2 separate regions of the Homo sapiens genome follow, and region 2 is linked to region 1. Evidence: fine-mapped expression QTL. A gene starts in region 1. The other region holds a variant in brackets. All regions are shown on one strand. Distances are between the middles of the regions. Region 1 holds the start of MDH1 (malate dehydrogenase 1). Region 2 overlaps WDPCP (WD repeat containing planar cell polarity effector).

What was found. PIP is the estimated chance that this variant, and not a neighbour inherited with it, causes the effect. A credible set is the group of variants that fine-mapping cannot tell apart.
Region 2: its variant is the best candidate, but not a certain one, in a credible set for the expression of MDH1 in lung (TOPMed, PIP 0.61).

Annotation. Positions count from the first base shown.
Region 1 is chr2:63,586,803-63,592,192 of GRCh38, forward strand. It overlaps MDH1 (malate dehydrogenase 1), which reads left to right and starts at 2,161. Exons shown (of 9, transcript NM_005917.4): 1 at 2,161-2,244. The coding sequence starts at 2,242. WDPCP (WD repeat containing planar cell polarity effector) reads right to left here and starts at 1,675. Exons shown (of 18, transcript NM_015910.7): 1 at 1,395-1,675. The coding sequence starts at 1,469. RefSeq lists enhancers at 840-1,360, 1,872-2,191.
Region 2 is chr2:63,434,271-63,439,660 of GRCh38, forward strand. WDPCP (WD repeat containing planar cell polarity effector) reads right to left here. Exons shown (of 18, transcript NM_015910.7): 8 at 3,151-3,284. Among named protein-coding and RNA genes, the nearest start is that of WDPCP, 150 kb to the right of the region's middle. The variant C/T (reference allele first, on the strand shown) is at 2,499.

The DNA.
Region 1 (5,390 bases):
AGGACTGCAGTGAGAATTCTGGTTATAAAAAGTCTCCCTTGTAAAATTCACTGTAAATCGAGGACAAAAATCATGAGATTGTTTTGTTATACTTTAAGTTCTAGGGTACATGTGCACAACGTGCAAGTTTGTTACATATGTACGTATACATGCCATGTTGGTGTACTGCACCCATTAACTCGTCATTTACATTAGGTAAAATCATGATATTTTTAAGGACAACAACATGGAAAAATCTTTCTGTTAGCAGCTAGTAGAAGAATTCATTTAGGAGGATAATGGAAGAAATTTTTCGTAACTGCTCAGAGTAAAAAGTAAAACTCAGAGAACCTAGGTTTGAGAATAATGCACACCTACTAATTCAGGACTAGACACATAAATTTGAGAGTTTTTGACATTAAAAGTAGCATTTGAAGTGATGCAACTTATGAATTAGCTCACTGAGGGATTTAGTATAGACAGAGAATACAGGCACCCCAATGTTAAGAGATCACAACTAAAAAAAATTTAGAAACTCCGCAGAACTGAGAACCAGTAACAAAAGAGGAAAACCAGGAAAGTATGTTGTCTGAGAGCCAAATGAATAAAGAGATACAAGGAGAGTCATTCAGGTATGATATTAATAAATGCTAAAAGTAAAGCATTACATTTCTTTCCAAAAATAGCAAATCCTCCAAACTGAAATAGAGAAAAATTGAAAGATATTACTTGGCATTCATTTATCAGTGACAGAGAAAAAACGGAAGTTCTAACAATGTTATCTAATAGAGATGTTTTATTCATTTTCATTACGTATATGCTGTGTATGCTACTCCCGAGCATCATATCTTCCTTTTAACATCCACAAGAAACAAGCTTTCAAAAAGCACAGCAATTCTCTTGGCAGCATTAATTTTAAAGAGAACCTCTTAAGTTGTTTTACCAGCTGAGACTGACTGACTAAACAACCAGTGTCTCCCCTTCAGTCGCCAGTCTTTCCTTAGAAATGCCTGTTTGGCATAACTTTAAGACTCAAGATGGTTTAAGGCGCATCCTGTTTCTTCCAAAAGGGAATGGACAAAACTCAACATTCACGGAGGGCTTAGAGCAAATTAGAACCGTATACTGTGACCTCCTGGAAGGGAGAGGCTCACCTCCTACAAAGTAAATGCTCAATAAATATTTTTGATATAACTCTGGAAGAGCTCCATTTGGGGTCGGGGGTGCACCTACTCCAGGGCACCACCCCCTCCAAAATAGCTGCATTCCCACAGCCCTCATACTCCGCTCAGAAAAGGGACCGGCGAGCTTGCAGGCATCCGCACAGCGGATAAAAGCAAAGCGGGACGGCGCACCAACCGCATTCCGGATCCTAAGGTTAAAAGAAAACCCCTTGCCCTCGGGCCAGGGCTCACCTGTCTCGGGAGTGGGGAAGAAGCGCGACTCCCGGCCGCTTTGGAGTAGGCGTCCCAGCAAAACTCTCGCCTCATCACCAGACACTACCCCGGGCAGAAGGTTCCTAGGCTAGGTCCTCGGACCCGAGAGGGAGCGACACGCTCGCTTGGTCTCTTGGGTCTCCAGGACGCCGCCGCCGCCGCCACAGTTTCCTCAGGTGCTACAAAGCAGCCAGGGTGTGCGTGCGCTCCCGCCTCGTCGCTTAGCAACCTGAGAAGCTGTCCGGTCGTCCCAACTTATCAATTCCCCCGCCCCTCCAGAGTGTCAATCGTTTTTTAAAAGATTTTGTTTCCGGGTCGATCCAGCTTTACGCAGCGGAAGGTCTCTTTACCTCCCACGTTTACCCTCATGGGAGGATGCAGTCTCAGTCACGCGCGTGGGGGTGATGTCGCTAAGGGGTGATTCTCCCCTCCCTAGAGTTACACACGCTATCTCTCCCGCCAATTGCCGGGCTCCATCAGGCAGGTCCTTTCCTCCTGAGCCCAAACCATCCGTTTGTTGTCGTCCTCCAATCACAGGGGCTCATCCTCAGGGACTACTTTGCAATCGGCGCAGAGCGCAGTGAGAAGAGCTTGAAAAAAACCTCTGGTATCGGGAAGTGTAGTTCAACACTTGAAGGAAATGCTTTGGAGATTGCGCCACAACCAGGGCAGCGTAAACTACAGTTCCCAGAGAGCGCCGCGTCGGGAGCGGAGCCTTTTCTCGCTAACACCGCTCGCCCTCTCCGAGTCAGTTCCGCGGTAGAGGTGACCTGACTCTCTGAGGCTCATTTTGCAGTTGTTGAAATTGTCCCCGCAGTTTTCAATCATGGTGAGTGTGGGCCCCGGGTTCCTGCCCACCTCTGGCCCTCGCGCCCTTGAGTGGGGTTTCTTGCACTTTAGGGACTTTTGGGAGGCAGCTGTGCAAGGCACTGTCCTTCGCGCCCTTTGGCAAGCTCGGACTCATCTTCTGGGGATTGCCGCAGTGACCCAGTAATGGGAAGGGATTGATTTCCACCTTGCGGGGTATGGGGCGCTCTTAGGAGGACTCTGGAGAAGTAGTTGTCCTGGGAGAGGAGCGATCTTAATCCTGCTGCATGACGGGAGGACAAAATGCGACGCTGCAGCTATTTTCCAAAGGACGTTACGGTGTTTGATAAGGACGATAAGGTTTGCGATGGGAGGGAAAGGTTGGGTCCTAACCCCTTTTTCTCCTCATTTGCCCACAGTGTTTATAACGGCTTTTGTCACAGGGACCTTGAAAGCAAAAAGCTGGAAAGGTAGTATTTACCAGGTGCTCCAGATTACGATCTGCGTTTGCAGCAGACGTGTTTCCGCCATATCTAATTTCTCAAAATGTTATTTGGAACCCGTTCATTGACCTTTTTTGTAATGCCAGGATATATTGAAGTGACAGCATCACTAACTAAATAACTACTGCAAATATTCTTTATTGAACTGTATATTGTGAATTCCAGAAGCACCTCTCTTAAATGTAACAGAGTAACCATTTTGTCATGGAAGACCTGGGTAACCTGCATCTCCATCGCTTGTCTCTGCTGAAAGAGAGGGGGAGGGGGAGAGTTGGTGAAGGAACTCTGGCGTAGGAATAATCTGCGTACTGCTTGAAGGTGACATTTGTCATCAAACTCAGAGAAATCGCTTCATACTATCAATACAATGGCTTGTATTTATAGTTGCGACTGTTTTTCCTACTTTATCTGCAAAATACTAAAACGGCTGGAGAATGTGGAGAAATGTTTGAATGAATTGGAAATTTCCCAGAACCTGAAAAGACACGTTTTCAAGGCAAGGGCATTACTCTCTCTGCCTGTCTAACGGGGCCAGTGGAGACAGCTACTAATTTCCAGTAGGTGTTAAACCTAGGTTTCCTAAATGTTTTGTCACATAATTAGTCATTTAAATTATGGTTTCGGTAGTTTCTGTCCTAATAACCTTAGCTAGAAAGCAGAGGTACTTATTATCTGATAACCTTGGACTTTTTGCTTTTAGAACTGAATGGGATCTTTTAAAGGTCATCTTGACGAATCTCCCCACTTCAGATCTTAAAATGGAGTTTATCGAGACCCAAAGAGAATGTGATTTGCTCCAAGAGTCTCACACTCTTGCCATTTTTCTATATTGTGTCTTACACTTACCAAGTCTTTCTGAATTTTTATTTTTATAGGGACCACCGCAGTGAGGTCTCGCAGCGGGGGAGAGACAGTGTACTCAACTCCCTGAAAACTTATTTTTACTAGCTGAGATTCCGGATGAAGTTACCAGTTCATACTGCATATACAAACTCAAATATGTTATCAGCATGTAGATTACTTGATAGCTTTATTCCTTGCCATTCAAAATACTGGAATTGTAGAATTAAAAGGGAATTTGGAGATTATATTATCTACTCTTATAATGTAGTCTGGTGAGGTCAGATAATTTTCCCAAGGTCACAGAGATTTTGGGCCCCAGATTCTTAGCTAGTTTCCCTAGCAAGGCCCCACCGTTGGAAGGTCACTGGGGTGCCAGATAACACAGAGACAGAACATGAGGAAGAATTTGTCTGGCAGTTTGCTGGAACTGACAGCAAACTCACACATGACTCAATTTCCCTGCCCCCTCAGGAGGGTGTGTGAATGGACAGAGTTAGAAAAGAGCCTTCTTCTGTAAGCTCATTCAAAGCGGAGGATTCTTTGCTTGTTGTCTGTAGGGAGTGACAGCAAAATAAACTGTATGAAGGAATCTAAATGGTACTGCTTAGTTTTTTGTGTTATAGAAATACATGTAATTTAGAAATATATATAAATTTGAAAGTGAAAAAGAAATATGTGGCTCTGTCTGTGGAATAACAGACACTTAAATTCAATCTTTATAGCTGAGAAGTTAGCACAGAGCCTGCATCTGCAGGAAAGTCATTGGTGCCCTGCTAAGAGCAAAGACGTTCCTTTTTTGGACCTTGGCACACTGCCCAGATATCTGAGCAAAGAATAGTAACCTATGTTCACACTATAACATTGTGAAAGTCAGCAGGACTCTCCCACCCTCCTGCTTTTCAACTGCAATGTTGCAGAAGAGCAGAAAGAACCATACATGGACTTTTCTTTCTCTGTTTCATCTTCAGACATTCAAACACTAAGCCTCATACTACCATTAATAAGATGGAATTACCTACCTGGGAAAGTAATTTCCCCAAAGACACAGAAGAAAACTGCTGAGGTGGAATTAACTGTTCATTAGGTGGCCACAACCCCTTCACTAAGGACTGTGATACTGTGAACATGTTTTTAAGTAGCTACTAAAATTGACTGCATTATTCTAACCATATAGGTGACCTTATGGGAAGTTAAACTTAATAGATAGTGATCTTCACTCTCTTCAGCCCCCCTTTTCTTATCCTAGTTTGCTGTTCATTGAAGTAGTATCTGTTCATACTTTATACCCTAACCTTCCTTCATTCAACAAATACTTTTTGTGGAAATGCAAATCCATATCAAAGACAGACTGTTCTCAAGAGCGCTTCATGGCCTAATACAGAGCAACAGAAATGTAAATAGAAAACCACAGGCTATTAAAGTCTTTAGAGGAAAATTCTGTGATGATATTTATAAATACTCACTACGTACTGTTCTTAGTGCTTTGTGTGTTAACTCTTTTAATCCTTAAAACTACTCTGTTTGTTAGGTAATTGCTATTATTATCTCCATTTTACTATGGGGAAATAATACAGAAAGGTTAAGTAACTTGTCCTAGAGCATGCAGTTAATGAGTTGTGGAGCCAGGACTTGAACACAGAAAGTCTGGCTCCAGAGTCCATCTCTTTAATTACTACTCTCTACTGCTTCTCTAGCCCCCTGTTTTAGAAAATTGGTGTATCCTTTTTGTTTCCTTCACGTGATTCACCAATGGATTCCCTGGCCTAAAATAGTACCAAGTACATGATAGGAACTTAATGATGTTTTGTTTAATGAATGAATT
Region 2 (5,390 bases), 150 kb before region 1:
TATAAAATGACAAGTTCAGTACTGCTGACCAAGAGAGTCTCACTACTGTTTAAGACATAACGTGTTAACAATGACTGACAACAAAAAAAGGAAAAACAACTTGAGGCAAATATCTCTTTAAAGAATATATGCGACGTATACACATATATTCTGCATAAAAGGGATAAGCCACAGCATCATGCATAAAAGTTTATGCAGCTTCTGAGAATTATGCTTCTCTTTCTTAGGCAGGATTTGTAGAATTTATTATTCAAACTATGTTATTTTGGAACATGGTTATTTGAAAACATAAGCACGGCACCATCTGTGTGACACATGCCAAGGAAATATAGATTGCACCGTATTTCTGCTTAAGGAATTAATGGAAGGTTGATAGCTTGGAAGAAAAAAAAAACTATCTTGCCATTGCTGGTCAGCAATAATCGAACCACTTTCTGGGGATTAAGCGCATGGCTAAGCCTACTGGACCAGACACTAGCAAAGGGCAGGGGGTCTTCTTATCAGAGAAATGCTTCTGGAGCCAGTCTCACTACATGACAGATTGCTTTCATATTCCTGTCTGCAAGGCAACAAAGGATGGCAGTAATGCGATAATGCCAGAGTGCAACGGGTGTTAAGAACCCGTTGCATTTATGTATTGTATTTAGTAAATAATCAGGCTCATCCAAATTGTGATCTCACCACTCAACCAAGGCCATTAAAACCAAGGTTAATGCTTTAATAATCCTCTGCTATTTTTTTTCAATATGGTCAAAAGGAACCCTTTTCTATTTGCATGGCCATAATATTATTGACCTCTTCATCCTCTGAATGCACATCAAAAGGAACTGAAATCAAAGTAATTACCAGTGTTGTTCTCTCATGGTAAACATTTAACTCCTCACAGTGTCCCTTCACTGTTAAATAAATTGAATTGGATTTTTTTCAGATGTAGACAGGAAAACTTGTTAAAGGTCAATAGTTTAAGGATGTTTACTCTGCAATTTTCTTTGCCAAAATTATGTCAATCTGAAAGAATTAAACTATGGTACAGCTGTAAAGAAAAGCAAAAGTACAATACTCTATACCACTTCCTTGTTTTAAAATCCAAATGGGCAATGACAGACAACACAGATGTACTTTATGCTATTAAGTGTAATTTCTTATATTTAAGCTCTCAATATCATTAAGTCTTCTTATTTGAGAGAAATACCACGATGAAATTGCTAAGTACTTAAAAATACACATACATTATTTCAATGTCTGATTTGCTGCATAAGTGTGTTACCTATGAATTTCTAGATGAGGAAATTGAGTCACAATGAGTGACTGACATTTTCAGTTGTCACATAATGCAAATCACTTACGTTATGAAATGTTAGGAAATTTCATGTTTCCTATGAGTTTAATATTATCAGTATTCTGTCATGATGACCAAGAGGGAATGTAAAATAAACAAATTTCTTAAAATATCCTTCCAATGGACAAATAGCAGATTTGACTAAGTATTAAAAATATACATTTTAAATATTAAACCAGGAAATGAAATTAATGAGTTTTCCGAAGGGAAACAGATTACTTCTCTAATGTATAGGAATGACATGGAGTGCCAATGTTCCTATTTTCCTAAATCCAAAGGCATATTCGAATAAGCAAGTAAGTAATTCCCTTACTTAAGGTTTAAGGACCCAAACGCTAGATGTCTTTTCCTCATCTTTTCATAAGAAAAGATGACATCTTGACAGTTTCTCTCTGTTCTCAGGTAGCTACTACTCTTCAGTTGAGAAGATTTTATCAAGCTATCACACCTAAGATAAAGAAACTACTCATCCAGAATTTTATATATACTTACTTTAAATGGTTTGAGTTAATGCACACTGGTGCATTTTAAAGACCGATCAATTTTAGTAAATAAACAGTATTTCAAGTAAATCTGAAGTTAGCCATTCTAGAACTAACATCCCTTTAAGAATGCTAATACCATTTTTGTTTTGGCTAACCAAATATAATAAGTAGCACTAATTTCCAGTTTTAAAAAATCTATATTAAGGTTTTATAGAAGTTTCACAAAGCTGGCAAACGAAACTAGATGGTAGTTTATCACCACAATGAAAAACTCATTTATTTTATTCCACATTAAAAATCTTTTTTTAAGAATAAATGTTCCTACTAAATAAAACTAAATCCTCCCATGCTACCACCACCTCATTCATAAGTAATAATCCCAAAGGGCAAAAGGTTAGGTTAAATACTACTTTGCCAAAAACACACACACATTTCAAGCTACAGAGCTAGCTTCTCAAACTCTTTGCTCTTGCTACAGATGCTCTAGGTATGGCATAAGTGTGCATCTTTTTTAAGGAAGCTGTATATCAGCTCTGTTCCCAGTGAACAGTGAACTGTCTCAAATCCACATCATAGAGGTTGGATCAATCTTGCAAACACAAGTCACTGTTGAAAAGAGGCCTTGAACTGAAACAGCCTGGAAAATGTATTACTCATCCTAGCAGAGAATATGC[C/T]TTCCCAGCAGTTAAAATGTAATGTGGCAAAACTCAAATTAAACACATCACTTAAAATAAAAATTCTGCCTTAATAGATGTAAAGCTCCTGATACAGGAAGGAAACAAATTACCTGGAATTAGTGAAGGGTGAGATACTAACACATGAAGATTTCTTTTTGCATTTTGTCCAGTTATAGCTGGAGGGGGAGGGTTCTTCCCCCTCCTTGTTTATTACACTTTTCTATTAACCTTTCAAAGTGCCTTCATCTTTCTTTTCTTGTGAAGTGGAAAGTATCCTACCCTAGAAAGCTATCCTACCCTAGAAAGATGATATGGGGTCTTAGGGGAAAATGAGAATGGTATATATACTACCACTGGCACGAAAACCATTTTCAAAAGTGTAACTTGCCTCTATTATCTGTCTTTGATGTCTATAAATACTATATAAATTGCTCCAAACGTGCCATTGTTAGACAACCCCCCATAGTGAGAGTATAAAAGAAAACTTAGGATGGCCACTGTTTACAGTTAATTAAGCTTAATCCTGTAATATTTCCAGTTTTTCTGAAATCCAGAAATGTTGAAGAATAATGAGCAGAATACCAACTTATGTGATACTCTCATATACCTTAATAATTAATAATATGACTATATAAATCAAAATCTCTACCTTATAATCCAAGGCTGAGAGTTTTTCCAGTCTTTTGTTTACATCAGAAGACTCCATCTTCTTGGTAAACTGAATAAAACATAGTTTGTTTTGTGCCAAAAATGATAAGATGATAAAACTGTCTGTGAGAAGAGCTAAAAAACATAATTAGATATTACCAAGTTAGAATAAAATAATGAATAGATTTTTCCACTGATATGTTACAAAAAGCTATTTTCAAACATACATATTAACTGAAATCACTAAAGTCTCTTGAATATCATTATAGCATTTTATAAAAATATTAAAGATATTAGGAATAAACAATAATTGTCAATCTAATCATATGTGATTTTTTTTCCTGTGACTATTTCAATATACACTGATATTTGGGGACCACCAATGGATGAGATGTATTTAGAAACAGGGCTATAAAGGTATTTTTAAAAAACTATTTCGCACCTGAATGTAGAGACGAAAACATTCCATTTTATTTGTGCTAAGAGTTTAATCCTATGTTTACATGATAGAAACCATCCGAGGATAAAGTGGATTTATTAGGGGATACTGATCAGTGTTCTCTACCAGTCTATTTATTTAAAAAATTTTCATCAGTGAATCTTCTTTTAGGGGTATACAAGCTGGATGAAATAAAGCATATTATGACCAATATGTACATTACATAAATTAATATCTAATAATGAAAATTAGCACAATATTTCTACAGCTTTGTCACCAAAGCACACAAGTAGGTAAATAACTAATATTTGTGGATTATATAAAGGGCTATTAATGTTACATAAAATTATTGATAAAAACATGTTACAGGAATTTGAGAAATGTTTTGCATTGTTCCTAGCATAAAGAAATTATTAAATGTTTTATACATTTTCCTTTACTTTCACACCCCTGACCATACAAACAGTGACCAACAGTGGATCTACACAATTACAAGAGAATCTGGAGAACTGCCAAGAAATCACATTGTTACCATGTTCCCATGAGAGTGTATTATTTTGGGTACAAATAAAAGAAATACATGAAAAAGGATAACTCAGAGACACGAATTGTGCTGAAAGTTTCCTTTTAATTCTCATTGAGGAGCATCAATATAACAAAATCATCACAGCCAGTATTTTATTTGCAGTACCAATGAAGGGGTCAATTATTAGACATATGAAAATGGAACCTCTTCTACAGGGAAGCTTCCTCAGCACCTTACTCCTGTAAGGAAGGGAAAATGGCATGCTTACAATCCTACCCCCAGCTTATTACTATCAGTAATGTTGCTAATTATGGCCATCCTGCAGAGTTCTTTTCTTCAAGATGATGTGATTGTGTCTGATTTATTCAGAGGTAGCTAGTGAGAGAACACAGCAGACGGAAGATTTCTTTATTCTCACCTCTGTCCTTTCCACTAGGACATACTTCCTTTGATTACTAAATTTAAGATACTGACCATTTTCAATCTTTCATGATAATACAATGTTTCTCAACCTTTTTACCTTGAATAAAAGAATATAATCTTTAAAAATTCAGGAGTCAGAACAGTATAGTGAAAGGAAAATGGGCTTCACAGCCCGAACCTGTATTCAAATCTTAGCTCAGTCACTTTCTAGCTATATGACTCTGGACATGTTCCTTAGTAGCTCAGCTTCGTTTCCTTATGTGTAAAAATGGAAATAACTATACCTTATACAATTGTTTTCTTGTATTAAATAGGTAGGTTAGGAACCCAGCATATAGAGCCTTTTGGTTCAATAAATGTCAGTATCCTTCCTATTCAATAACTGGCTTAATATCTTTTTCTTATGTGCTTTGTACCAATTACAGACTGATTGAGATGTCACTTAATAGGACCTGACTGTCCAGTATATTAGGCATTGGTCTTTACTATTTAGAAAATATAGCCCAAAATCTCTCTAAGACTTTAGGAACAAAGAATCTTCCTATGAGAGCCAAAGCATCAATTGTGTACTGGTGGTTGTGTTGATATATTTGTGTTATTTATTCAAAATTCATTTGGAAATAAAATATATATTTGAAGTGCCAGTTATAGAGAAATAATTTTGAAAGAATGAAAACAAAACCCTATTTTGAAAAAATGTTCACTTCTTTTAAGGAAAAAGTAAAAAACAACTCAGAATATAAGCTTAACAGTTGACAAGAAAAAAACTTTGATATTAAATATTAGTCGAAACTTGTATTGGTCCCAGGGGGTGTAAGTACGCTATTACAAGCAATTACTTGTTGTGTTTGCA